Linked DNA regions of Homo sapiens: all the other regions are reported to be linked to region 1. Evidence: microRNA targets listed by miRTarBase, many of them from high-throughput screens and not tested one by one. Region 1 holds a microRNA gene; each other region holds the end of a gene's coding sequence.

The links. The annotated mature microRNA hsa-miR-34a-5p reads UGGCAGUGUCUUAGCUGGUUGU and lies in region 1 at 1,647-1,668, opposite strand. An mRNA with a match to its seed (bases 2 to 7 or 8) in the 3' UTR can be bound and repressed. Matches are read on the target gene's strand: a 7mer-m8 pairs with bases 2 to 8, a 7mer-A1 pairs with bases 2 to 7 and ends in A, and an 8mer does both.
Region 2: miRTarBase lists ATG5 as a target of hsa-miR-34a-5p. Seed matches in the 3' UTR shown: 8mer at 462-469.
Region 3: miRTarBase lists BAG6 as a target of hsa-miR-34a-5p. The part of its 3' UTR that is shown has no 7-base or 8-base seed match.
Region 4: miRTarBase lists KTN1 as a target of hsa-miR-34a-5p. The part of its 3' UTR that is shown has no 7-base or 8-base seed match.
Region 5: miRTarBase lists UBQLN2 as a target of hsa-miR-34a-5p. The part of its 3' UTR that is shown has no 7-base or 8-base seed match.
Region 6: the mRNA of HUWE1 is a reported target of hsa-miR-34a-5p. The part of its 3' UTR that is shown has no 7-base or 8-base seed match.

Annotation. Positions count from the first base shown.
Region 1 is chr1:9,150,089-9,154,195 of GRCh38, forward strand. MIR34A (microRNA 34a) reads right to left here and starts at 1,689; the gene lies at 1,580-1,689. MIR34AHG (MIR34A host gene) reads right to left here. Exons shown (of 2, transcript NR_132742.1): 2 at 1-1,747. RefSeq lists a silencer at 1,498-1,734.
Region 2 is chr6:106,182,806-106,186,805 of GRCh38, reverse strand. It overlaps ATG5 (autophagy related 5), which reads left to right. Exons shown (of 8, transcript NM_004849.4): 8 at 130-2,330. The coding sequence ends at 266. Among named protein-coding and RNA genes, the nearest start is that of PRDM1, 98 kb to the right of the region's middle.
Region 3 is chr6:31,635,857-31,639,963 of GRCh38, reverse strand. It overlaps BAG6 (BAG cochaperone 6), which reads left to right. Exons shown (of 26, transcript NM_001387994.1): 25 at 318-464; 26 at 738-936. The coding sequence ends at 833. It overlaps PRRC2A (proline rich coiled-coil 2A), which reads right to left. Exons shown (of 31, transcript NM_004638.4): 25 at 3,915-3,997; 26 at 3,545-3,755; 27 at 3,356-3,454; 28 at 3,019-3,231; 29 at 2,828-2,922; 30 at 2,640-2,730; 31 at 2,193-2,518. The coding sequence ends at 2,378. Among named protein-coding and RNA genes, the nearest start is that of MIR6832, 4.1 kb to the right of the region's middle.
Region 4 is chr14:55,683,327-55,687,433 of GRCh38, reverse strand. It overlaps KTN1 (kinectin 1), which reads right to left. Exons shown (of 44, transcript NM_001079521.2): 44 at 2,855-3,335. The coding sequence ends at 3,331. Among named protein-coding and RNA genes, the nearest start is that of KTN1, 110 kb to the right of the region's middle.
Region 5 is chrX:56,565,463-56,569,569 of GRCh38, forward strand. It overlaps UBQLN2 (ubiquilin 2), which reads left to right. Exons shown (of 1, transcript NM_013444.4): 1 at 1-2,406. The coding sequence ends at 286. Among named protein-coding and RNA genes, the nearest start is that of UBQLN2, 3.9 kb to the left of the region's middle.
Region 6 is chrX:53,529,761-53,533,867 of GRCh38, forward strand. HUWE1 (HECT, UBA and WWE domain containing E3 ubiquitin protein ligase 1) reads right to left here. Exons shown (of 84, transcript NM_031407.7): 84 at 2,336-3,651. The coding sequence ends at 3,549. Among named protein-coding and RNA genes, the nearest start is that of MIR98, 25 kb to the right of the region's middle.

The DNA of each region.
Region 1 (4,107 bases):
AGTCTATTTGAGGAAGAAAAGGACAATTCCCATAGGGAGGGGGTTTGCTGAAGCAACCAGCTGCCTGGTTTCCTCTCCAGCATTGAGAGGGAGGGAGGGCTGGCTTAACTGGGGGACGGCCTTCTCATCTGGACTGTGTCAAGGCCAAGGTTAGGCTCCAAATTCCAGAAAACCTCTCTGCAGGGTCTTCTTTCAGAGTGGTGAGAATGGAAGCAGGCTCCCTTCCCCTCCAGCACTAGGAAGCCCCGCAATTGGTGAGGTGCAAAGAAAGATGGGCCCAGGCAGGGAGGCGGGAGCAGGGGAGGTGCCCAGGGCAGTGGCTGGAAGGGCAACGGGAGAAGCAGCAGAGGCTGGGGGTGGGGGTCGCAGCAGGTGCTGTCCCTGGCCTGTGTGAAAGGTACTAGAAGGCCCCATCCTTGGTGCCACATGGACCCCAGAGGCTTGTCTTAGTCCATGGGGTCCGAGGTGTAAGACACTTACGTTTGGCGTCACCTCTTAGGCTTGGATGAATTTCAGAAAGTGCTAGACTGGAGAACAGTGGAAAAAATCAGTGGAACAAGATCTGGAGCACTCACTGCTCAATGTCAATGTTAGAGAGCACAACGACACCAATGGGAGGAGGGTGAGGACCAGAGGCTGATTGCATGAGCTCTGTTGGAGTGCAGGACCCACTAACGGGTTATCTCAGGGTTCCTGGAGGCCACGGCTGTGCCTTGTGGTCCAAGACCTGGGGAAGCCACCACTGTGTCTTCCCTCTCCATCCTCCGGTGACTTTGGTCCAATTCCTGTTGCCATGGCAATCAGCCCAGCTGGCCTCACAGTTCACTGGCCTCAAAGTTGGCATCTGTAGGTGAAGCCAGTGGGACCCAGAGAACTTAATTCTTCTCAACTGAGCTGGCTTGGAGGAACTTTTCTCATCAGCCACTGGAGCAGAGAACGTCACCAGCGTCTCACTGACGTCAACATCCTGGGCCTGGCTCTAGCTGAAAAGGAAAATTCTCCCCAAGGCAGACACATCTCCCGAAGCCCACACAGGCACTTTCTATGATTGCACTGGAAATCTGTCTCCTGGGGACAGGGAGCGCGTACGCTCACAGTCAAGTCACAATGTTGAGCAGTCTCCAGGACTCCACGTTCATCTCTAAGAACAGGAGCCGGTGGTTGGGCGCAGATTCTTGAGCCAGATTGCTCGCGTTCAAAACCTGGTCCCTTTTTATTAATTGCATGCTTAGTTACATTTTCTGTTTGTACTTTTGTTTCCTTCTCTGCAAGACGGGGTTAATCACAGACACTTGTACATGATGTAATACACTTACAATACTTAGGACAGGCCTTCCTGCATAGTAAGTGCTCTGCAAACACTGGCTACTATTCTCCCTACGTGCAAACTTCTCCCAGCCAAAAGCCGCCCACACCAAGCCCCTGTGCCTTTTTCCTTCCGCACCCACGAGCAGGCTGCTCCTGGGGCCCTGGAGCTCACTTTCCCAGCCGCCCTCACCACCCACCGTGGCGCAGAAGAGCTTCCGAAGTCCTGGCGTCTCCCACTGGTCTGGGCATCTCTCGCTTCATCTTCCCTCTTGGGCCCCACAACGTGCAGCACTTCTAGGGCAGTATACTTGCTGATTGCTTCCTTACTATTGCTCACAACAACCAGCTAAGACACTGCCAAAGAAACACTCACAGCTGGCCGGTCCACGGCATCCGGAGGGGACTCGGGGGACAGGCCTGTCCTGCCTCTCCCCAGCACCTGTTGATAAGAAGGAAATGTGGGGAGGAAAGAAAGGATGCAGGAGGCCGAGGTGGGAGGATCGCTTCAGGCCAGGAGTTCAAGACCAGCCCAGGCAACTAGCAAGACTCCATCTCTACAAAAAAATTTTAAAAATTAGCCAGGCATGGTGACATGCGTGCCTGTAGTCCTAGCTACTGGAGAGGCCAGGGCAGGAGGATCGCTTGAGCCCAGGGGTTGAGGCTGCAGGGAGCTGTGATTGCGCCAGTCTGGGTGACAGGGTGAGACCCCGTCTCTAAAAATAAAAATTGGGTGATGGCTCACACCTGTAATCCCAGCAATTTTGGAGGCCAAGACAGGAGGATCACTTGAGGCGAGAAGTTCAAAACCAGCCTGGTTAACATAGCCAGACCACCACCTTCAGCAACTGTCTCTACAAAATGAAAATAAAAATAATGAAAGAGAGAGGATGGAGGAGAAGGCTGAGACCAGTAACAGATTCCAAAAGGACTAATTGACAAGGAGAAAAAGAGTCAGCACTTCCCTGGAAGAGAAAAAATTCGAAAAGGACAGTGGTTGAAAAGTCAGCATGTCTGCGTGAAAGGGAAGCAATGAAGTAGCGCCAACTCCTCCCCCGTCCCGGGCACCGTTTAGGGAGAGGATCAGAGTTCTGCCAGAGAATCAGAACCAGAAGGAGATATAGATTAAGTTTATTTCAAGGAATCGGCTTACGTGATTGTGGGGGCTGGCTAGGCAAGTCTGAAATCCAGAGGGCAGGCCAGCAGGCCGGAAGCTCCCCGGAGGAGCTGACACTGCAGTCCCCAGGCAGGATTTCTTCTTCTTCAGGGAAACCTCGGTTCTGCTCTTGAGGCCTTTCAACCGATTGCATGAGGCCCACCCACCTCGCAGAGGAGAACCTTTGACTTACAGCCAGTGATCATCAGTGCTGACCACATGTACAACGCACCTCACAGTAGCACCCAGGCAAGCGTTTGGTTGAATCATGGGTATCACAGCCTCGCTAAATTGACAAGGAAATTGCCCATCACAGGGTTTAAGATCTAGTGCTTTAAGATCTACTGACTTCTTGTTGTTTTGTTGTTGTTGTTTTTATAGAGATGGGTTCTTGCCATGTTGCCCAGGATGGTCTCAAACTCCTGGGCTCAAGTGATCCTTCCGCCTCGGCCTCCCAAAATACTGGGGTTATAGGCATGAACCACTATGCCAGGCCAAGATCTAGTGACTTTGGATACGGACCACCACGGAACAGTTCCTCTTCCATGTGGGTGTGGGGGCATGAAGGACTGTTTTCAGGAGGATCAAAGTCACCTCTACCCCAGCATGGGAAGTCCCAGAAACTTGAGTTCCAGGTAAGGTAGTGCAGAAAAAAGCAGGCTCATGAGCCAGTGCTGTCTCTCTCTGTGCAAGGGGGAAAGAGCCCCTCTGAGGCCTCCACACACAGTCAGCAGGACACAGGACACAGAGGTCAGCCTGTTGTGGCCACTGTGAAATGTCCCGTTGGAGTTGACAGGAGCCTGCTCTGACCTCAGTCCTCCTCCTCCAAACAGGTGACCCTGTAATGCTCTGGTTAAAAAGCAAGCCAGCTGGACTGTGTTATCTTTTAGTGTGGGAAAAATGCTCTTAGGCCGGGCGTGGTGGCTCACACCTGTAATCCCAGTACTTTGGGAGGCTGAGGTGGGTGGATCACTTGAGATCAGGAGTTCGAGATCAGCCTGGTCAACATGGTGAAACGCCATCTCTACTACCAAAAAAAAAAAAAAAATACAAAAATTAGCTAGGCATGGTGGCATGTGCCTGTAGTTCCAGGTACCTGGGAGGCTGAGGCAGGAGAGTTGCTTGAACCTGGGAGGCAGAGGTTGCAGATCACACCAGTGCACTCCAGCCTGGGTGACAGAGCGAGACTCTGTCTTAAAAAAAAAAAAAAAGCTCCTAATATGTCAGATTTTAACCCAAAGGTAAATTCCAGCAGGGCATGCTCATCAGCTAGAGCGGCAGGTCTCGGCTTCACTGTGTAAGCATCGGCTGGGGAGCTTTTGGTAAAATGCAGATTCCCAGGTTCAAACCTAGAAGTTCAGACTTGGCAGCTCTGGGATGATGCCAAAGGTACATCCTGCAGTTGCTGTGTCCCCAGGTCAGCGCAGAGACAAGCAAAAACTCAAAGCTTCCTCCCTCCCTCAACTCCCAGCCAAGACTGGACGGGGCAGGGGACCCCAGAATCCTGAAAACAGATAGCCACATGGAAACAGTGACCACAGCACACTTGAACTTTGTAAGCACAGCAGAAGCGTGTGGGATGGGCTGGCCCATCCAGAGATGGGGTGCAAGAGGCAGGAATCTGGCCTCATGGTGGCTCCTGGCTT
Region 2 (4,000 bases), not on the chromosome of region 1:
ATTTCCTGTTCAGGGGACAAAACATGTTTAAAATCCATTTAATGCACTAAGGATTCTCAAAAGGCACCAGATTATTTTTTCTTCAACTGTTTTGACTTTTATTGTTGTTGGGTTTCTTTCTTGGAATAGATGGGGAAAAAAAGAATCAAGTGATGATTCATGGAATTGAGCCAATGTTGGAAACACCTCTGCAGTGGCTGAGTGAACATCTGAGCTACCCGGATAATTTTCTTCATATTAGTATCATCCCACAGCCAACAGATTGAAGGATCAACTATTTGCCTGAACAGAATCATCCTTAAATGGGATTTATCAGAGCATGTCACCCTTTTGCTTCAATCAGGTTTGGTGGAGGCAACCTGACCAGAAACACTTCGCTGCTGCAAGCCAGACAGGAAAAAGATTCCATGTCAGATAAGGCAACTGGGCTGGTCTTACTTTGCATCACCTCTGCTTTCCTCCACTGCCATCATTAAACCTCAGCTGTGACATGAAAGACTTACCGGACCACTGAAGGTCTTCTGTAAAATATAATGAAGCTGAAACCTTTGGCCTAAGAAGAAAATGGAAGTATGTGCCACTCGATTTGTATTTCTGATTAACAAATAAACAGGGGTATTTCCTAAGGTGACCATGGTTGAACTTTAGCTCATGAAAGTGGAAACATTGGTTTAATTTTCAAGAGAATTAAGAAAGTAAAAGAGAAATTCTGTTATCAATAACTTGCAAGTAATTTTTTGTAAAAGATTGAATTACAGTAAACCCATCTTTCCTTAACGAAAATTTCCTATGTTTACAGTCTGTCTATTGGTATGCAATCTTGTAACTTTGATAATGAACAGTGAGAGATTTTTAAATAAAGCCTCTAAATATGTTTTGTCATTTAATAACATACAGTTTTGTCACTTTTCAAGTACTTTCTGACTCACATACAGTAGATCACTTTTTACTCTGTGTTACCATTTTGACTGGTCGTCATTGGCATGGGGTGGATATAGGGCATAGGATTACTTGTCTCAGAAGCTGTCATAGAATTTCTTGCTGCCAATTAAAAAACCTGTGTTCTTTACACACTACACGTATAAATATTGTAACTGTTCATCTTTGTTGTTTTATCACTGTAAGCCTGTCAAATCATAGTATCCTAAGCATCTGTAAATGCTAATTTTGCATTTTTGGAAAAACCCATTCCTTCCAAGCTAGTGTTTTTCATTGGCTCCAGGTCTAATTTTTCACTGTGGTCCCTGGCAGCCAGTCTTTTGAAGTTTAAAGATTACCTGTCTCTTGACTGCAGTACCTTTTCTTTAATTTTTACCAAAAATATCCAGAGGTTACTGGAGTTCTTATTCAATATAAGGAAAGTTTGCTGCACTTTATTACCAAGCCTCTGGGATTTTACCAGTCAAACATATTTGTGCATTACATTTCATTTCTTGTGAGCTAGCTGGCTGTCCATATTGAATGTTGACCCATTTGAGTACGCTAAAAGGCTTACAGTATCAGACACGATCATGGTTTTAGATCCCATAATAAAAATGAATGTTTTTCTTATAAAAAATTATACAAATGCTGAAGTGAGATTCTACTATTGTTCATTGCTTCCTTTTCTTTTTCCTTTTGCGATTTTCACTGATTAATAGCACATTTCTTCACAAAATTAGATAAAGTTGGTCAAAGACCAGATATTCTGGAATGGAAATTGTAAAGCTTAATCAAAAAGAATAGCCAGTACAGCATACAATCTCAGAAACTTAGAAGCAAGTAGAAAATAATTGGTTGATGTAAACGAAAGTGCCATTTTAGTAAAGGCAGGAAAAAAATAGCAATATTTGAGTTATGTAAGGATAAAAAATCCACTGACTTGTATTTTTGCACAAGAGGCTGGTCTGAATATGATTGTTCACATTAAGAGTGTTTATTCGTCGGTTCATTTTGGGGATTTTCCCCCTTGATGTTTTGACAGATTGAAGTGAGCTTTAGTGAGCAAAAGGATCAGAATGCAGGGAACACTAAGCTGTGATGAAGAAAGTGTGGTAAAAAGCCAGAGTAGTTTTATACAGACAAAACCAGTGTCAGGCCTTTGCAGTAGGCTTGAGTGAACTTCTGATCTAGATTTGAAAGTAAATTTTATGAAGACATTGCCCATTTTTACTTCCTCATTCATTATTGTACCAGCATCATAGCTTTATTACTCTAATCCCAGGTAAGTCAAGCCTACAATGCCCTAGAGGAAGAGTAAAACCAGAAATTCATGCTGGCTTAAATAATCTATTTTTGTTTCTTTTCATTTGAATATTTAAATTTTATGGTTTATTAAAAAATTAAATAAATGTTGTGTCCGTCTTTATTTAAAACAAGTTACCTGTTGATAAAATCATTAAAATTTCCTTAGTCACAAACTGTCATAAAAGTTTCTTGGAGAAATAGGATGGAGGGATATAGAAGAGAATATAAAAGAAAATTGGAGAAGACCCCCAATATGCCTATTTGACTAATAGTAAATAGTGACCTCCTAGGAAAATACAAATACATTTTTAAATATTGGCATTGTTAACTAGGAACGAGTAAATTCAGATTAAAGTAAGTCATTGTCCTTTATAATGTTGATTTTCATTCGGATGACCTAAATTATGACCATGGAATTCAACTCTAATTGCCATTTTAATAAAGGCAGAAAAAAATAGCAATATTTGAGTTATGTAAGGATAAAAAAATCCACTGACTTATATTTTTGCACAAGAGGCTGGTCTGAATATGATTGTTCACATTAAGAGTGTTTATTCTTCGTTTCAGTTTGGGGAGTTGAACTGATAAGCACCAGGATTTTCTTACAGATTTAGGGACCCGAAGTAACTTGTTTATAGTTTAAGTTGACTTATCAGTCTTTATAGGATGATGAGGTATAAACCGTATTCCAATCTGAGTGTGAGGTGAATTCGTTTAGTGTACTAGTCTTGTTACATTTAACACTGGAAACAAGCTAGGAGTTGATCATTATCTGAGAAAACAATATATAAGCTTTGACATTGTGTGACAGTAGTTTTTAATGGTTATCTTTCTACAGTATTTTTTAATAGGCTATTTGAGGTAACCTTTTCTTCAGTTTTTAGAAATTTGGTTTATGTGGGTCATGCCAGAGAATGACAGTCTCACTTTTATTTATCATACTATTGATATTTAGGTCTGAGGTAAGTTGGGTTTCCTGTTACATGTGCCAGCATGGTTGAAATACAAATGTAAAACCTTGGGGTATGATAGGAAAATCAAGTGTGACCATATTTAGGAATATTTGAACCTATTCATTGTCGATCAATGGATGGAGTCCATCAAAATACCTACTTGCCTGAGTTCTGTCATCCTCTTGTTTCCTAAATATATTTATCTCCTGGTCTGAAAATATTAAAAATTACAGTGATGGTAGAGAGGAAAGAAGAGAGGCATGCCTCTTTTCAGATCATTTGAGATTAAGCGAAAACTTGGACATTATAAAAATTTATTTACTATGTAGCTTTATTTGACAAAAGCATCTTTCACATTATCAATCATGAATTATAAATTTGATTCTTCATGCTTACGAGCAGATATAGTACTACTGTAAAATCTAGTAGGAACAATATAGTAACCATGGAGTGAAAGACTCAATTTTTAGGTCCTTTAGGTAGCTCTTTAAGTACTTAGGTTTTTAAGTGCAAAATCATTTTTATTAACTATGTTACTGTATTAGAATGATATATAGTGAGATAAAGACAAATTTGAAGATTGAGGGATGTCAGTACGCTTTGACGTATAAGTTGACTCCTATGAAAGTGATTAGTTTGGCTTTCCCTCTGTAGCTTTCTCACCTCCACATCTCAAGGATAAATAAAGTACAACCAGGCGTTTTCCATTTTTTCCCCCAGTTCTCAGTGGAGTATATAGCACACAGTTGGTGTTTAGCAAGTGTGGAAAAAAGGATTACTTAATAACTTTATAATGAGTGTTATATTTTTCTGGTAAGAAT
Region 3 (4,107 bases), not on the chromosome of region 1:
ATGTGCTTAGATCCCATTTTCCTTTAAGGTGGGTTTCCTCTTGTGGATTACCTAGCTCTGAATCCCGGATGGCTTGACCCCTTCTGCCTTTCGTTTTGAAGAGCACGTTCAAGCACATTCACTTTAGTTTTGGCTAGTGCCAAAGAGAATTAGGAAGGCATTTCTGCTGTAAAAACCACATCCTGGACTCTTAATTTCCCCTCTCTCCACTAGCATGGAGACTCAGTGGAGTGGTTGACTCATGGAAAGGGTGAGCCGGATGGTGGCACTGGATCTGACGTTGATCCTCTTTTCCCTCCCAACCCCCTGTCCCCCAGACGATGCAGGGTGAGGGCCCCCAGCTGCTTCTCTCAGAGGCTGTGAGCCGGGCAGCTAAGGCAGCCGGAGCTCGGCCCCTGACGAGCCCCGAGAGCCTGAGCCGGGACCTGGAGGCACCAGAGGTTCAGGAGAGCTACAGGCAGCAGGTGCCACCTTGAAGCAGAATAGGGATGGTCTAGTGGGAGGGGTTGGGCTAGGGTCCCTCTTCCCTGGATCCCTTCAGCGATGAACTGGTCAGCCTGGTGCTACCATTTGTTTTCCCCTTTGGCATCTGGGAAGGCTTGACAGTGCCACCCCGGGCTATTTGACAGTGTGCTTGGGGGGGGAAATGTTAGCTTCTGAGGGATGGCCTTGTGTGCTTGCTGGGATCATGGGGACTTGGCCAGCGTTTCTCCAACCTGCTTACTTTTTCTCTTTAGCTCCGGTCTGATATACAAAAACGACTGCAGGAAGACCCCAACTACAGTCCCCAGCGCTTCCCCAATGCCCAGCGGGCCTTTGCTGATGATCCTTAGCTCTTTGCTCTATGGCCCTTCCTCATCAGGGGACCGTTTCCCCCCTCTTCCTTCACAGTATTTAAGAAATAAAAGTCGGATTTTTCTGGCTGCTTTCTCTCTACATTGTCTCCATTAGGTAGTGTGTCCCTTAATCTTGTGTGAACTTTTTTAAATTAATACTTCCTTGGAACACTGTTGTGTTCTACTCAGCACGCTAAATTGTACAAGCCAGTTTTGATGTTTGTTTTTTTTTTTTTTTGAGACAGAGTATTGCTGTCTCCCAGGCTGGAGTGCAGTGGCCCGATCTCGAGCTCGGCTCACTACAACCTCCACCTCCCGGGTTCAAGTGATTCTCACTCATGCCTCAGCCTCCTGAGTAGCTGGGACTACAGGCGTCCGCCACGACGCCCGGCTAATTTTTGTATTTTTAGTAGAGACAGGGTTTCACCATATTGGCCAGGCTGGTCTCGAACTCCTGACCTTGTGATCCACCCGCCTTGGCCTCCCAAAGTGCTGGAATTACAGGCGTGGGCCACCGCGCCCAGCCTGATGTTTGTATTTTTTGTGCGAAAGCACTTTATATATAAATAAAAAACCTGTATTTTGAGTTGGGAGCATATTCCAGGTGCACACTAGCATAGAGCTCTCAAATTACCCATCAAAAAAAGTTTCTGAGCAGCTGCAGACCTAAGTATAGTCTTTAGCATAACTAGCATGCAGCGTTACCATGTGAAATCCCACTTAGTTTGACAATGCTGGAATTGGTCTATCCAATTCAAAGAGCCCCTTAAGTGTGCTCCAACATTGAGGCCTTAACAGAGATTTCCCCTTAGTTCATCATAAAGAACTGAAGTCCCATGGCTGCAAATTCTTTGCTAGTCCCTTTGAGATGCAGTTGAAGTCCCTTCTAAACCCCCCCATCCCCTACCTTGGCTAGTTTAGTGCTCTTATCAACTAAGCATGGCATAAGCTTAGAAAATTCCAGCTAGACCTCTTGGAACATGAGCTCACGGACATTTAACAGGCCTGCTGGAGAGTCCATGTGAAGACACTGGTTGATAACCCAGTAATGTTACAGATGTCCCACCAAGGCCCTAGATATGCAAAGGAAGCCATATTGGGACCAGCCCAGGTGTCAGCTGCAGACTGATAACCAGTTGACCTCGCTCACTGGCACAAAAAAGCAGATTTATCCAGCTGAGCTCAGCCCAAATTCCAGACTCACAAAAATTTAAAGATCCAATACGATGGTCATGTTTTTAGTTTCAACAGCTCACTGGAATAAGTAATGAATATTTCCCTGACTGAAACTACAGATCACTCAGCACCATGCTTTAAGACAATGCAAACAACTCATCCCCCAAATCATTGTAGAAGTTTTTTTTTTTAAATCCTTTTATTACTCTTTTTTAACAAACAGCCCCAGGGACAGGGGACCAGGGGAAGGGGGAGGAGGGGAAGTGAGGCCCCAGCCCCAGAACCCCTCCCCGCCCACCCCTTTCCCCCTTATATATTTATAATCTATATACAAGCCCCGGGGGTAGGGGGCAAGAGGAACTCCCTCAGCGGGGTGGGGGCAACCCAGGCTCCTTGTCCCCTCGGGACCCAGGCTCCTCTGCCCGTCGGGAGGGCCCTTCTCGAGGTGGCGGCCCTGTCCGCTCCCAAGGCTTAGGTATCCAGCGCAGGGCATCTGGTGGGGAGGCCTAGGGGACAGGCATGTGTTAAACAGTGAGTCACAGTGAGAGGTCAGCGATGAGACGGAAGGACAGGAAATCAGGTGGCAACTCGAATTTAGAGTTGGGGCCACAAGGGTTTCTCCTTCACCTGCTGGTAAAGGTCGACGCGCTGGGTGCGGAAGACTCCACTGTAGGTGGAAGGCGTGGCCTTGAGACGGGAATTGAGGCCAGAGAAGGACCTAAGGGAAGAAGGGCGTCTAAGGCAAGCCTAGGATCCAGACCCTGGTTCCAAAGTAAGGAAGCACTTGGAAAGTCCACATCCCTATTCCGTTTCACCTTCCAGTTGGGGGAGTCCGTGATGATCCAGGTCCCCCAAGGTTGCTGCTCAGTTTTTGATAATCCTGGAACGGCTTTAGTTCCACTGGATGCAGCTGAGGGGAAAAAAATCATGAGCTGCCTACCTTGAAATACAGAATCCCTACTCCCAAGTCTTGGCGCTCCCTAGCCCCTCAGTTCCTGTACCTTACCTCTGCTCGCCCCAAGCTAGCGGGGAAGGGCCTGGCAGGTGAAGGCAGCACCCGAGTAGCAGGAGCAGGTGGGGGCCGCACAGCCAGGCTGGGGGGCTGCAGAGCAGGGCCCACAGGTAACAGAGAAAGGGGAGGTGGGGCAGGAGGTGGTGCTGGCGGCAGGGAGCCAAAGTTCACCACAGGCAGCTGTGAGTCTACCATGGGTAGAAGCATCTGTAACAAGAAATTTGGGTGTGCATGTTGGGGGCAGGGAGGAATGTCAGAAAACCAGGGAAAATCAAAGCCAGCAACTGGACAGAGAAATCAAATGAAGGGGAAGTGTGAAGATACAATATACCTGCTGGGCAGGAGCCCCTGAAGGGAGAAAGCCACTTTGGCCACCAGGCTGCAGAGGAGTAGAATAAAAATCCGAAGGGGATGGCAGATCCTGGCGTACCTGTCGGGAAACAGGGAGAAATATATCAACCCCCACAAAATCATTCTCCCTACCCTATCCCCCAATATCTAATACCTGCCCCCCTCTTACCTGAAGCAACGATGTGTCAGGCAAAGGACTGGGGCAGAAAGCCGGAGAGTAGAGGAAGGAAGGTGGAGGGTAGAGAACTCCTCCAGCCGGCAACTTCCCCAGCTCTGTAGCTTGCATTGTGGAGAAATCCAGAAACTGGCCCTTGAGAGCTAACCCAGAGAGCAGTGCTGAGGGAGGGGCTGGGCCGGGGGGTAGGTATAGGGGCTGTGATCTGAAAATAAATTGTGGGGAGAAAAGCTGTTAGGAAGCCAGAGTCCTAGCAATGCCTTAAGTCCACTAGCTTCTAGTACCCTAGAACTGTGTCTTCCCCTTCCCTCTCCCCGAAACACATCTCCAAGTACTTCTGTGATCCACAGGCATCGAGTCTTACCTGTAAGGGTGCAGTGAGGGTGTCCCAGGGCGGAAGCCTCCACTGTTTGGATGTAATTGAGAGTCCATGGCTCCCCCAGAGATCTGCAGGAGAGGAGCACGGTTGAAACAGCTTTAGTATCTGTGGTCAAGAAAAAAGATCACCATCCCACCCATAGAAGCAAAAAGTAGGGAGAAAAATGATGTGACAAAGT
Region 4 (4,107 bases), not on the chromosome of region 1:
TGGTATGTTGGCTGCCTTGTAGAACTCTGCCAACAAATATGAAATGGCCAGATTTTCTAGGAAAATAAAAATGACAAAAATGTAGTCAAGAAAAAAAAATCTACCACCCAGGTTGCAGAACAGCCTAACAAGTTAGTGTCCTTTCCCAACCATAGTCTTCAACTCTGCTTTGCGGAGTCTCCCTCTTCTGCACATCCTAAGCAGACCCAAAAGCTGTTCTGTAACTTCGGTTAATACAAGTCCAGTCCAACCCAGTGTAATAACCCATCTCCCATCTGCCCCCTGGCTTTAATAATGTCAACAAGGAATCGTCTTTTCTTTCATTCTTCCTTTGCCCTTCCTTTTCTGGGGACCCAAATGAATGAGGTCAAGGGACAAACGTGTCTTAACAAACGAGGGTATAACTGCAGCCTCCTTCTGGTGGTAACTGCTTCTCCCTACATCTCATCCTGGGCAGATTCCACAAGTGGCAGGTGCCCATATGCAGTCTCTGTCCCGGGATGCAAGACACATGAAAAATCTAGCTCTAACTCTGTGAGCAACACAGCTATTGCCCACAGCTATACACCACATAGCCTCTTGCAGCTAGAGTGAAACGCATGCAAGGCAGCTCAAGCCTCGATGCTTTACACAATATCACTACCTCCAGGAAATGAATTAGTTTTCCTACGCCAAACCCAAGGGTATGGCCGGCTTCACAGGCATCCCCACTCCTCCCTTCCACGTCTCTCTCTTCTCTTTTGGGGGATCAAGAAGTCTGCCCCTGACTATTCTTTATTCTCTTCCTGTAAGCTTCCTTCAATGTGTAATTTTCTTGGGGCTTTCTGCCTCAGTTGACTGTGATGGTGGCAAGGAGAGCCATTTGAGTTTGATGACACAGAATTCCTTCTCTTCTGATGCTCCCTTCCTCTCCTGGAGATAGGTTTGTAATATACTGGGAGAAGGTGGACAGTCGGGGATTGAGGCAAGGAGGCTAGTTTGGCCTTTAATCACTCAGTGCAACTAAGGAGCTGCGAATATTTAACTGTAAGGGGAATGAACGTAGAGCACAGAATTATCTTTGCATATCTGAACAATCACTGAGAGTGTGATAAGATTTTCCTATGTGATTCTGTAGTGAGAAAGGACAGATTGATGCAAGTATCAGGGACACAACTTTTAATAATGTCATAGAAGAACCATTAACAGTTACAGCTGTCAAGTTAGAAAAGGCAATGTTATGAACTTCCTGCTACTTCAGAGGCAAAAGATGAATGACTGTAAGGTTGAGATGTTGAGGGAAGGGATACAAACTGACAGGAGACTGGACTGTGTCCCCAGAGTCCTTTGAAATTTATTTTTTTTAATTCAAACATACAGAAAGGTTGAAAAAATAATAGAATTACACAATTATTCTGAGGAACTTAGCTCTGAAGAGAGAAAGAGTAGCAAGAAGACACTGTAACTTGGAAGGCAGAATTTGTTCGTTACAGGTGGCAGCAACATGAGCACCTTTAGGCAATGGGAAAGGACAAAGGAAAGAGGCTGATGATGTAGTATCTGGCCTTCAGATCAATTTCCCAAGGATTTGCTGAAAGCAGCAAAGGTAGAAAAAGGTAGCTTGAATCCCCACACCAGTCCTCACTGGCCATAAGAAGTCACTTCAGTTGATTTCTATATGCCTTAGAAATACTATATGTGCAGTGAAGTGAAAAGGTAAGGAAGCACCACTTTAGATAATCTTCAACCTCCAAAAATGAATTTTATCCATTCACTCATTTAAATAGTTGAGCACAATGAAGTATCAGGCACTGTCTCAGGCTACAGATACAGCAAAGAACCAAAGAGATGTTTCTTGTCCTTGTGGAGCTTACTTACTGGTGGGAACAAGGAGAGTAGAAATCAAGTATGACAGACAATAAGGCAGAATAGGGAGGGCAGAAGGATAGCGGACAGTCAGGAAAGACTTAATTAGAAGGGTGACATTTAAGCAGATTTCAACATAGTGAAGGAGCAAGCCAAAGCTGACACACCAGAGGAGAGTTCCAAGCCCAGAGAACAGAAAATGCAGAGGCCCCATGACAGAAGCATGACTGTTATGTGCACAAAAATAACAAGATGACCACAGTGCAGCCTAATGGGTACTTTAGTACTCAATGGCACAAGATATTTCTCAGTGGTTATTTAGCATCTGAAGTGTTTTTAACAAATTATTAAAAAAACTTTCATTGGCTGGGCACAGTGGCTCACACCGGTAATCCGAGCACTTTGGGATGGGTGGATCACTTGAGGTCAGCAGTTCGAGACCAGCCTGGCCAACAAGGTGAAAAACTCTTTCTACTAAAAATACAAAAATTAGCCAGGCATGGCGGCAGGCGCCTGTAATCCCAGCTACATGAGAATTGCTTGAACCGGGAGGTGGAGGTTGCAGTAAGCCCAGATAGTGCCAATGCACTCCTGCGTGGACAACAGAGTGAGACTCTGTATCAAAAAAACAGTAACAACAACAACAACAACAAAAAAGATAACACATGTAAACTGTGTAACCGTGCCTGAAAAAGAAAACTAACAGTTAATTATTATTACTTCAAAAAAAAATAGTAATGGTAAAAATAGAGCTCCTCTACCTGAAGTGTGGGTGTTTAGTCTGAAATCCTAAATGCTTGCTCTGTCCTTTCTGAAACCCCAGCACTCCTGGGGCACTTTACATTGGACCAAACTGAAGAGGACCCAGAGCATCAGTTAGAAAGGTTACAGAGGCTACATAAACCTATCTTGTTGAATGGTTGCCAATTAATAGCTGTATTCTAAATTACAATGATCTGTACTACTAATGAAATCTGTTAAAGCTCAATAAAAATTAGAACAAGTCAAGTTTGAATAATAAGCATCCTTTTATTTGCTGACGCCATTACAAAAACCGATTACATTAGCAACAAAAAAGTGTTTTCTTGAGTTGAAGTCAGAGGCAGTTACTTCCCAAAATGTTAAGTAAAACAGTGTACAACATCAGTATTAAAATGTTAAATTTTACATTGTCTTTACCACTTTGATCTTCTGAACAATTTTATTGAGCAAAATAAGATAAAAGATTACATGTTTATCTTCAGGAATGTAAAGGTCTAATTATTCAAACAGTTTTTATTATAAAACTAAACTCTGAAGGTGTCTACAGAGTTGGCTTTTTTTTTTCCTTCTTTAAATCAGTAGTCTAACAAGGATTAGAAAAGACAAAACTCTGTTCAGTGTTTCTGACAAAGTAGAAAGGGTGAAAACATAAATAAGGCTTTAATTTGGCAAAATATAATACAATGCCTTTTTTATCCTCAAATGAACAGTTTCCCAATTACTTCACTCTGTAAAAGATCAGAAAGAATGAATTTCACTTTAAAACAAAGCAACAGAAGGCAATCAGAAGACATTTGTCAAACACCAAAAGTACATATTCCATTTGATCTAGCATGGCCCTTTCAAATAGACTCAAAGCAATTCACACTAATGGTAATCAAACTGAGAAAAATCTCAGGATTCAAAGGAAACAAGCTTTTAGGTAGATACTTTTAAATGTGAGCCAAATTCTGTTAGAAAACATTTAAAACAACAACACTGGTAATCCATTTTTATTAGTCCTACTCAAGAGAATGTAAAGCTAAAGTGAGTGAGTAGCACTGAAAAGGGGTTGAATACAACCTTACCCCAGTGAATAAATAATTTAAAAGAGCAGAAATAGATTTTTTTTTTTTTTTTTAGGTCATATGAAGTTTTCTAAGTCAGATAAGATGACTAAAGAAATTAAACTTCAAAAGCCATTAGAGAGACTAAGAGGACTTAACAAAACACAACATGTTAAATTTTGCCTTGGATTCTGGTTTGGGGAAAATAGTTAAAAAGCTATTTTGGGTACAATTGACAAAATGTGAATAAACGTTTAATATTGGATAGTACATAACTACTATTTTGTCTTTTTGGTTGTAATAATGGTACCACTGATTGGTAAAACAATGTCTTGTTTTCGGAGATGTGTGCTAAAGTACTTAGAGATAAAATGTCATAATGACTAAAAGTTACTTTCAATTAGTTTAACAACAAAATATGTAGACATATAGAAAGAGATGAAGCAGGTGGAGG
Region 5 (4,107 bases), not on the chromosome of region 1:
TGGTGGCCCCACGGGGCCTACTGTGTCCAGCGCTGCACCTAGTGAAACCACGAGTCCTACATCAGAATCTGGACCCAACCAGCAGTTCATTCAGCAAATGGTGCAGGCCCTGGCTGGAGCAAATGCTCCACAGCTGCCGAATCCAGAAGTCAGATTTCAGCAACAACTGGAACAGCTCAACGCAATGGGGTTCTTAAACCGTGAAGCAAACTTGCAGGCCCTAATAGCAACAGGAGGCGACATCAATGCAGCCATTGAAAGGCTGCTGGGCTCCCAGCCATCGTAATCACATTTCTGTACCTGGAAAAAAAATGTATCTTATTTTTGATAATGGCTCTTAAATCTTTAAACACACACACAAAATCGTTCTTTACTTTCATTTTGATTCTTTTAAATCTGTCTAGTTGTAAGTCTAATATGATGCATTTTAAGATGGAGTCCCTCCCTCCTACTTCCCTCACTCCCTTTCTCCTTTGCTTATTTTTCCTACCTTCCCTTCCTCTTGTCTCCCCACTCCCTCCCTCTTTGTTTCCTTCCTTCCTTATTTCCTTTAGTTTCCTTCCTTAGCCGTTTTGAGTGGTGGGAATCAATGCTGTTTCACTCAAAAGTGTTGCATGCAAACACTTCTCTTTATTCTGCATTTATTGTGATTTTTGGAAACAGGTATCAACCTTCACAGTTGGGTGAACAAGTGTTGTCCTACAGATGTCCAATTTATTTGCATTTTTAAACATTAGCCTATGATAGTAATTTAATGTAGAATGAAGATATTAAAAACAGAAGCAAATTATTTGAAGCTCTCTAATTTGTGGTACGATATTGCTTATTGTGACTTTGGCATGTATTTTTGCTAGCAAAATGCTGTAAGATTTATACCATTGATCTTTTTTGCTATATTTGTATACAGTACAGTAAGCACAATTGGCACTGTACATCTAAAAATATTACAGTAGAATCTGAGTGTAATATGTGTAACCAAAATGAGAAAGAATACAAGAAATGTTTCTGGAGCTAGTTATGTCTCACAATTTTGTAGAATCTTACAGCATCTTTGATAAACTTCTCAGTGAAAATGTTGGCTAGGCAAGTTCAGTTAAAATATAGTAGAAATGTTTATCCTGGTATCTCTAAGTATACATTTAATTGTACAGAAAATTTACAGTGTAACATTGTGTCAACATTTGCAGATTGACTGTATATGACCTTAATCTTTGTGCAGCCTGAAGGATCAGTGTAGTAATGCCAGGAAAGTGCTTTTTACCTAAGACTTCCTTCTCAGCTTCTCCCATAAAGAGACCCTAATATGCATTTTGATTTGTAATTGGAAATGTAACTTTCACTGAAAGTGTCATGTGATGTTTGCATTACTTTTAACTGCTATGTATAAAGGAAAGTGTGTCTTTTGACTTCATCAGTTATTTCTCTTGTGCACAGAGAAAAATGCATTAAAAATGACTAAAAAAAATAAAAAATTAAAAAATGGATAAATCTTTTCTTTTTGCCTTTTGGCCCTAGGATCGTGTTTAGGAGGATTATCCCACCCCGAGATTATATAAATCTTATCCTATATTTCTCTAACTTATATGGTTTTATTTAGAAAATGTTTTGTCCTGTCTGGAATTATCTTGATGTATGGATTTAGGTATTCTAACTTTTTTGCCCCAAAGGGTTAGCCAGTTGTTAACATATTTACCTTTTCCCCCAACATATGAAATGTCATACATGTATATACTTTATTCTGTGTTTGGATTCCCTTTAGTTCCATTGAACATTGTGGCACCAGTACACCAGCCTGTAGATGAGTTAGAAATGGGACTTTGTATCTTTTAATGTGAGACCTCCTCTTGATCTTTTTTATTTTTTACAATATTCTGACGATTCTGACATGTTTATTTTACCAGATGAATTTTACAGTTAATAGATTCTTCCCCCAAAAATATATTGAGAATTTGGTTGGGATTCTCTTAAATTGATATGACTGTGAGGACTACAGAATTGCATTGCTTTCCAGAAACATGTTGCCTTGTTTCTGAAAAACTTTATATATCCTTCAAGAGAGTTTTACTTAAATCCTATATAATTTGTAATAAATATGTTCCTAGGTAATACAGACATACAGGGAACACGTTGATACTGCTTATTGGAGCTTTTAATATGTTACCTATGTGGTCATTTTTGCTATATAGGAGAAGAATTTATTTGCATCGATTATTTTAAATTGGCAATTTATTGAAATCTATTAATTTTAGAGATATTCATTTGATCCTTTTGAGTTTTTCCAGGTGAGAAATCCTATCAATTATGTTATAATTATATGTTTTCCTTTTCAAAATTTATAACATAATTTCTGACTGCATGGGTTAAACATTTTCATAACAGTGCTAAATAATAAAGGTGGCAGTGGCATTTTTGTCTTGTTTCTCATTTTAGCCAGAATGTGTTTGCTACAGCAATTCCAAATTGTGTTTTGTGAAAAAAAAATATTCTTCTGGGAGACAAGGAAATACATTTGCAAAATGCTGTATACTTTAATCTCTCTTGGAGACTCATTGTGCAATAAATGTTGGCTAGTATTTTTTTTTAATGGGTAGCTTCTTCAATTAAAAAAAAAAAAAACTATTTAACTTTGTGTAACTCAGCATTTTCCGAACTTATTTGAGCACAGAACCACCTTTTTTTTTTTCTTTTAAACACACCTAATACCATTTGGCCTGTCAGTGTTCCTCAGAACACCAACTTAGGAAATGGTGATTTATTATTTCATTACTATATCATGCCAGGTATTTGACATAATCACAAAGTCTGTCATAATAAATTCAGTAATTTTAATGACAGATGATTTTATATGGAAATAAATATAAAATTGTAGGCATAGAAAATAACAAGAAATCAATAGCATAGTAGAAACTGGATATTGGCTGAGGCCTGGCTCAGGCAGTTTAGCAGATCAGTTTCTTTCAAACACTCAAGGAACAGGAAATTATTTTATTAGCTTTGCCAAATGTTTATTTTTAAGTGTATTTTGTTTTCTCTTGGAAAAGATCCACGTCTTTACTTTATTAAGTCTACTATTATTTTGCTTATAACTTCATTTATTTTGGCCTTTTAAAAATTACTTTTAACTGTTCTTCCTCCATCTCTTACATGATGTAATTTCCTCCTATTATGTTGCAGGTTCTTTTTAAAGGCTCTGTTTTTGTTTTGGGTTTTCTTCATCTACTATTGATCCAAGATTTATCCATTTATTCATCATTGAATCAAGAAGGGTATATCCTGACCTGCTATCCCTCCCCCTCCAACAAGAGTGGAACAATTATTTTGTATCCATTCACTGTTTACTGGGTTGTCACCCCATCCAACAAGAGTGGAACAGTGTTTTTGTATCCATTCCCTGTTTACTGGGTTGTCACCCCCTCCCAATGGCTCTGCGATCCAGCAAGATGTGGTAGTAGGGAGGGAGCTAATGCCAGGGGCAAACCCAGCAGGATGACTTCACCCTCAAGACAGCTTTCCTCATTTGCTTTTGTCCTCTGTTTCAGGTACGTGATATCATACATACTTTCTCTACTCGTGTGGGAGGGGAGGGGCAGGGGGCATATACACAACTTGGAAACAAAACCTGTTGGTTCATTAAAGGGGACTTTTGCATCAAGTTGAGATCTCCATGCTAGTTGAGAAACTAGGATCAGGAGACACCTGTATTTGGGTGTGGACAAGCTTGCCCTCTGAGAGAGGACAGCCTGCTCCAAATTATGTTAATCTGCAGTGTCAAAATAGGACCAAATTGACTAATTCCTGTTAGGGCCAAGCCTAGTGATCAGGGTTGAGATGTCAGGAAAGCCATTTGGCCTGTGTCTTATAATTCAAAAAGGGATTCAAATTCAGACTTTTGACACTATCCTAAATGAACTGATAACTCTAGCCACAAAGCCAGACTGACCTGATGTAAATGTTTGTCATACAGCTTAATTTAGTATATGTAAAGAAATTAAATTATTTGGCAAATTTGATATTCCTAATTGAGTATTATTAAAAAAATATACTGAGGCCAGGCACAGGGGCTCGCTCATGCCTGTAATCTCAGTACTTTGGGAGGCCAAGGTGGGC
Region 6 (4,107 bases), not on the chromosome of region 1:
CCTGAAGTCCCAGCTACTTGGGAGGCTGAGGCAGGAGAATCTTTTGAACCTGGGAGGTGGAGGTTGCAGTGAGCCGATCATGCGCCACCACACTCCTGCCTGGGTGACAAAGCAAGACTCTGACTCGAAAAAAAAAAGAGAGAAAACATCACCAATGTAGTTGAAGCCCTGTGTAACGTGCCTCTTCCCAGCCACATCCCCTCTGTCTACCCCTGCATTGTCCCATAACTTATCCTCAACATTGTGCAAGATTTTATCATCCTCATGGTTTTTCATACTCTTCATACATGTTGCATGATTTTGCAACTTTTGAGCAGGTCTTATATGTATGTACCCTCCTGAAACTTTTTCTTTTTTTGAGATAGGGTCTCACTTGCTACCCAGGCTAGAGTGCAGCGGTATGATCTCAGCTCACTGCAGCCTTGACCTCTCTCCTAGGATCAAGTGATACTCCCGCCTCAGCTTCCCAAGTAGCTGGGACTACAGGCACGCACCACCACGCCCAGCCTGAAACTTTATCATTGAGATTGTGCATGTGATGTATGCAATTGATATTTTTACTACTGTGTAGGATTCCATTGTAGGAATTTGTCACAATTCATTTATGTTAGGTAATAAGTTTATGTGAATAGTTTGTTCATTATAGCCAAGTTTCTTGCTAGACTGTTTTAAGTTCCAATACTTTTTTTTTTTTAGACGGGGTCTCGCTGTCTCCCAGGCCGGAGTGCAATGGCGTGATCATAGCTCATTGCAGCCTCGATTTTTGGGGCTCAAGCGATCATCCCACCTCAGCTTCCCGAGTAGCTGGGACTACAGGTGTGTGCCACCATGCCTAGATTAAAAAAAAATTTCAGTAGAGAGGTCTTGCTATGTTGCCCAGGCTGGTCTTGAATTCCTGAGCTCAAGCAATCCTCCCACCTTGGCCTCTGAAAGCCTTGGGATTCCAAGCATGAGCCACCATGCCCTGCTCCAATAACTTTTGACTCCGTTAGCAAATGGTTTAAGTTATACCTTTTGTTTCCTGTTTTACTGAAATAGAAAACTGCAGAATAGCAGAACAGCACTAATAGTGATAATTAGCCACCTTATCTTTCAAGTGTGATGTTGGCTGTTGGTCTGAAACTACCTTATCAAGCTAGCTTTACCTTTAAAGGTTGCCAGGAATGGTTCTTGAATGTGAACAAATGCCTTGCCATCTACGGACAAAGATTTCTCAACTGACAATGAGGCGATTAATATTACACTACACATATCCCAGGGGCAAATCACACTTGATCATGCTCTATTTTTGTAGTATCCCACTGAATGAGATTTGCTTCCATTTCCCATAGGATTATTCCATCTGTACTCCCAGCTTCCACATCCAACCCCCAACCTCCAACCCAGGAACCCCCCCTTTACTTTCAAATTTAAATTACCTGCCAGACCTTTATTTCAAAGAACCAGTTAATCTTACTGCTTATTGACAAATTCTACTCTCTGCTTATTCTTTTTTTTTTTTTGAGACCGAGTCTCATTCGGTCACCCAGGCTGGAGTGCAATGGCGTGATCTCAGCTCACTGCAACCTTCGCCTCCCGGGTTCAAGCGATTCTCCTGCTTCAGCCTCCCAAAGTGCTGGGATTACAGGCGTGAGTCACGGAACCTGGCTGGGACTGGCGCGGTGGCTAGGACTGCCAGTAGCTGGGACTGCAGGCGCACGCCAGCACGCCTGGCTAATTTTTGTATTTTCAGTAGAGACGGGGTTTTGCCATTTTGGCCAGGCTGGTCTTGAACTCCTTATCTCAGGTGACCCACCCGCCTCAGCCTCCCAAGGTGCTGGGATTACAGGCGTGAGCCACCGCACCTGGTGTATCTCTTCCATTTTAAAGTCCTGCTGGACTCTAAGCAACTAAACTCCTCCTGCCTTGAATTATATGACCCCTCTCTGCTTAACCTCAACTCCTGCTCAGCTTTAGGCTGCAATCCAAGTGCACCGACGATGGAAAGCTTTCCCTGACTCTCCAGGCTAGGTCAGGCACTTCTATGTGCACTGAGACCCCTTTCTTCATCTGTCACAAAACTAATCACTGTCTTCGCCTCCCTACTAGAAGCTCAGTAACACGGATGGGGCAATTCCTCTGCCTTCTCAGTCATCAAAGCAGGGCCAGGCACAAAAGAGTGGGAACACTAAAAAAGGGGAAAATGGCTAGCAGCCTTGGCTCCAGGACCAGGGGATCAGGTTAAAGACACACCCTTTCTTTCCTAGACCCACACTTTGGGACAAGGTCAAGGGGACAATCTGTTCAGAGGTAGCACCCCAGGAAAATGAGAAAAACCACACAAGGCAAGCACCACTTGGGGTTATTTTTTCTAACTAAATTTTTATTAAATTATTTTTTCTTTGAAGGCTGGAACCATCGAAGTCCTTAGATCAGCTTTAAGCACTGGATGGAGTAAAAACCACAAGGGACTACAAGGTGATCTGTGAACAGACTGGCAGACAGATGACGAGAGAGGGAGTGACGACAACAAAAATAGACAAACAAAAATAATGGTCTTCTGGCGACCTAGTTAAATTACTCGCTTATTAAAATTTATTAGAAATAAACAAACATTAATGAAATAAAAATCTAAAACTGAGCCCCAGACTCAAGACTACTAGAAAGGCTCACCAAGTAAAACCCTCGGTTGGGTCAAGTGAGCTCTCTGAATGTTTTGTACAACCTGCTGCAGTTTGTTCCCCTTGAGCAAGGTGATGCTTTGTCCTGGGCTGCAATCTCTAACACCATCACCATCCCCAAGTGCAGCTCCCATTCTAAAAAAAAAAAACAGATGCCCCCACCCCCAATTCCTGGTGAACTGCTCATCTCTCCTGACTGCAGAAACTGACTCTGAAGGAGGAAGTTGCACCAGTGGTGGAGGCAGGTGGGCAAGCGGGTAGGGCAGGGATGGTTTCCTGGAGAATCCATCTTTTCTCCAGATGCCTAGCATGTGCTTAAGAGTTTTTTGTTTTTTTTTTTAAGTTTGAAAAAAACTCCATTGTGAAAAGTGAGTTATGAAGAGTGCTCTTTATTTGAAACCTCCACAACACAGACGCCAATCTTGTCTCGCATTGAATCATTAGCTGTGCACATCAACACATTCCAAGCACAAATTAAGAAATGCAAACAGAACAAAAAAATATATATATATATAATTTTTTCCCCTATCCAAAGGTTTCAAGTCTCAATGCAGCAAATCCTTCTGAACACAGAATCTGAGGAGCACACTGTTCAAACAGTTGGGACAGACAGGTCCCTGCAAAGGCTACTGCCTTTTTAAAACACATGGGGTGGGGATCATGGACGGCATGGAAAGGGGAGAGAAGGTGAGGAAACAGGCGGCGGGGAGAGAATGAGAAGAGGAACAGGTATGCGCTGGGGAAGATGGGGCAGCTGGGACACACACGGTGAGTTGGTGGATTTCATTTATTGGTTTTTGACAATTTCTTTCTGGTTCTTTTTTTAACTCCCCCCTCCCCAGGTCCAACAATGGTAAAAAAAACCCCACGGAGTTGGGCAGGGCCTTATTAGGCCAGCCCAAAGCCTTCAGAGCACTCCTGGATAGCCAACAGTAGCATGTGGCGGAGCTTCTCAAAGCTCTCATAGGCAGGCAGATCCAGCTGATTAAAACTAAGGAAAGAAGAAAGATCAGTTTGTGGTGAGGGATGACAGATAACCAAATCTGTGTGTTCCCATGGTGCCCACCAGCCCCTCCCCTCCCTGAAGAAACCAACTCCCTGCTTCTTGATGACTCCCAATCTTGTCTCAGCCCAGTATGTCCCCCTTTATCTGGCTCCCAAACTGGCCATCAGGCACCAAAACCAAAAATCTGACCCTGTCACTCCTCCTTAAACACCCTGGCCTCACTCGCCCATAGGCTAAAGTGCAAACTTGAAGGTGGTTTTCAGAGTCACTGGTAATCGGACCTCTGCTGAGCTCTTTAGACTTTTGCTCCCTGCAACTCCTCCTTGCTCCAGTCACGCTGGCCCTGGAATACACCATGCTCTCTTGTGGTGCTGTTTACCTGACAGTGTCTCCCCAGCCCCCACTGTGTCTAGCACATCTCATCTCAAACATCACCTCCAT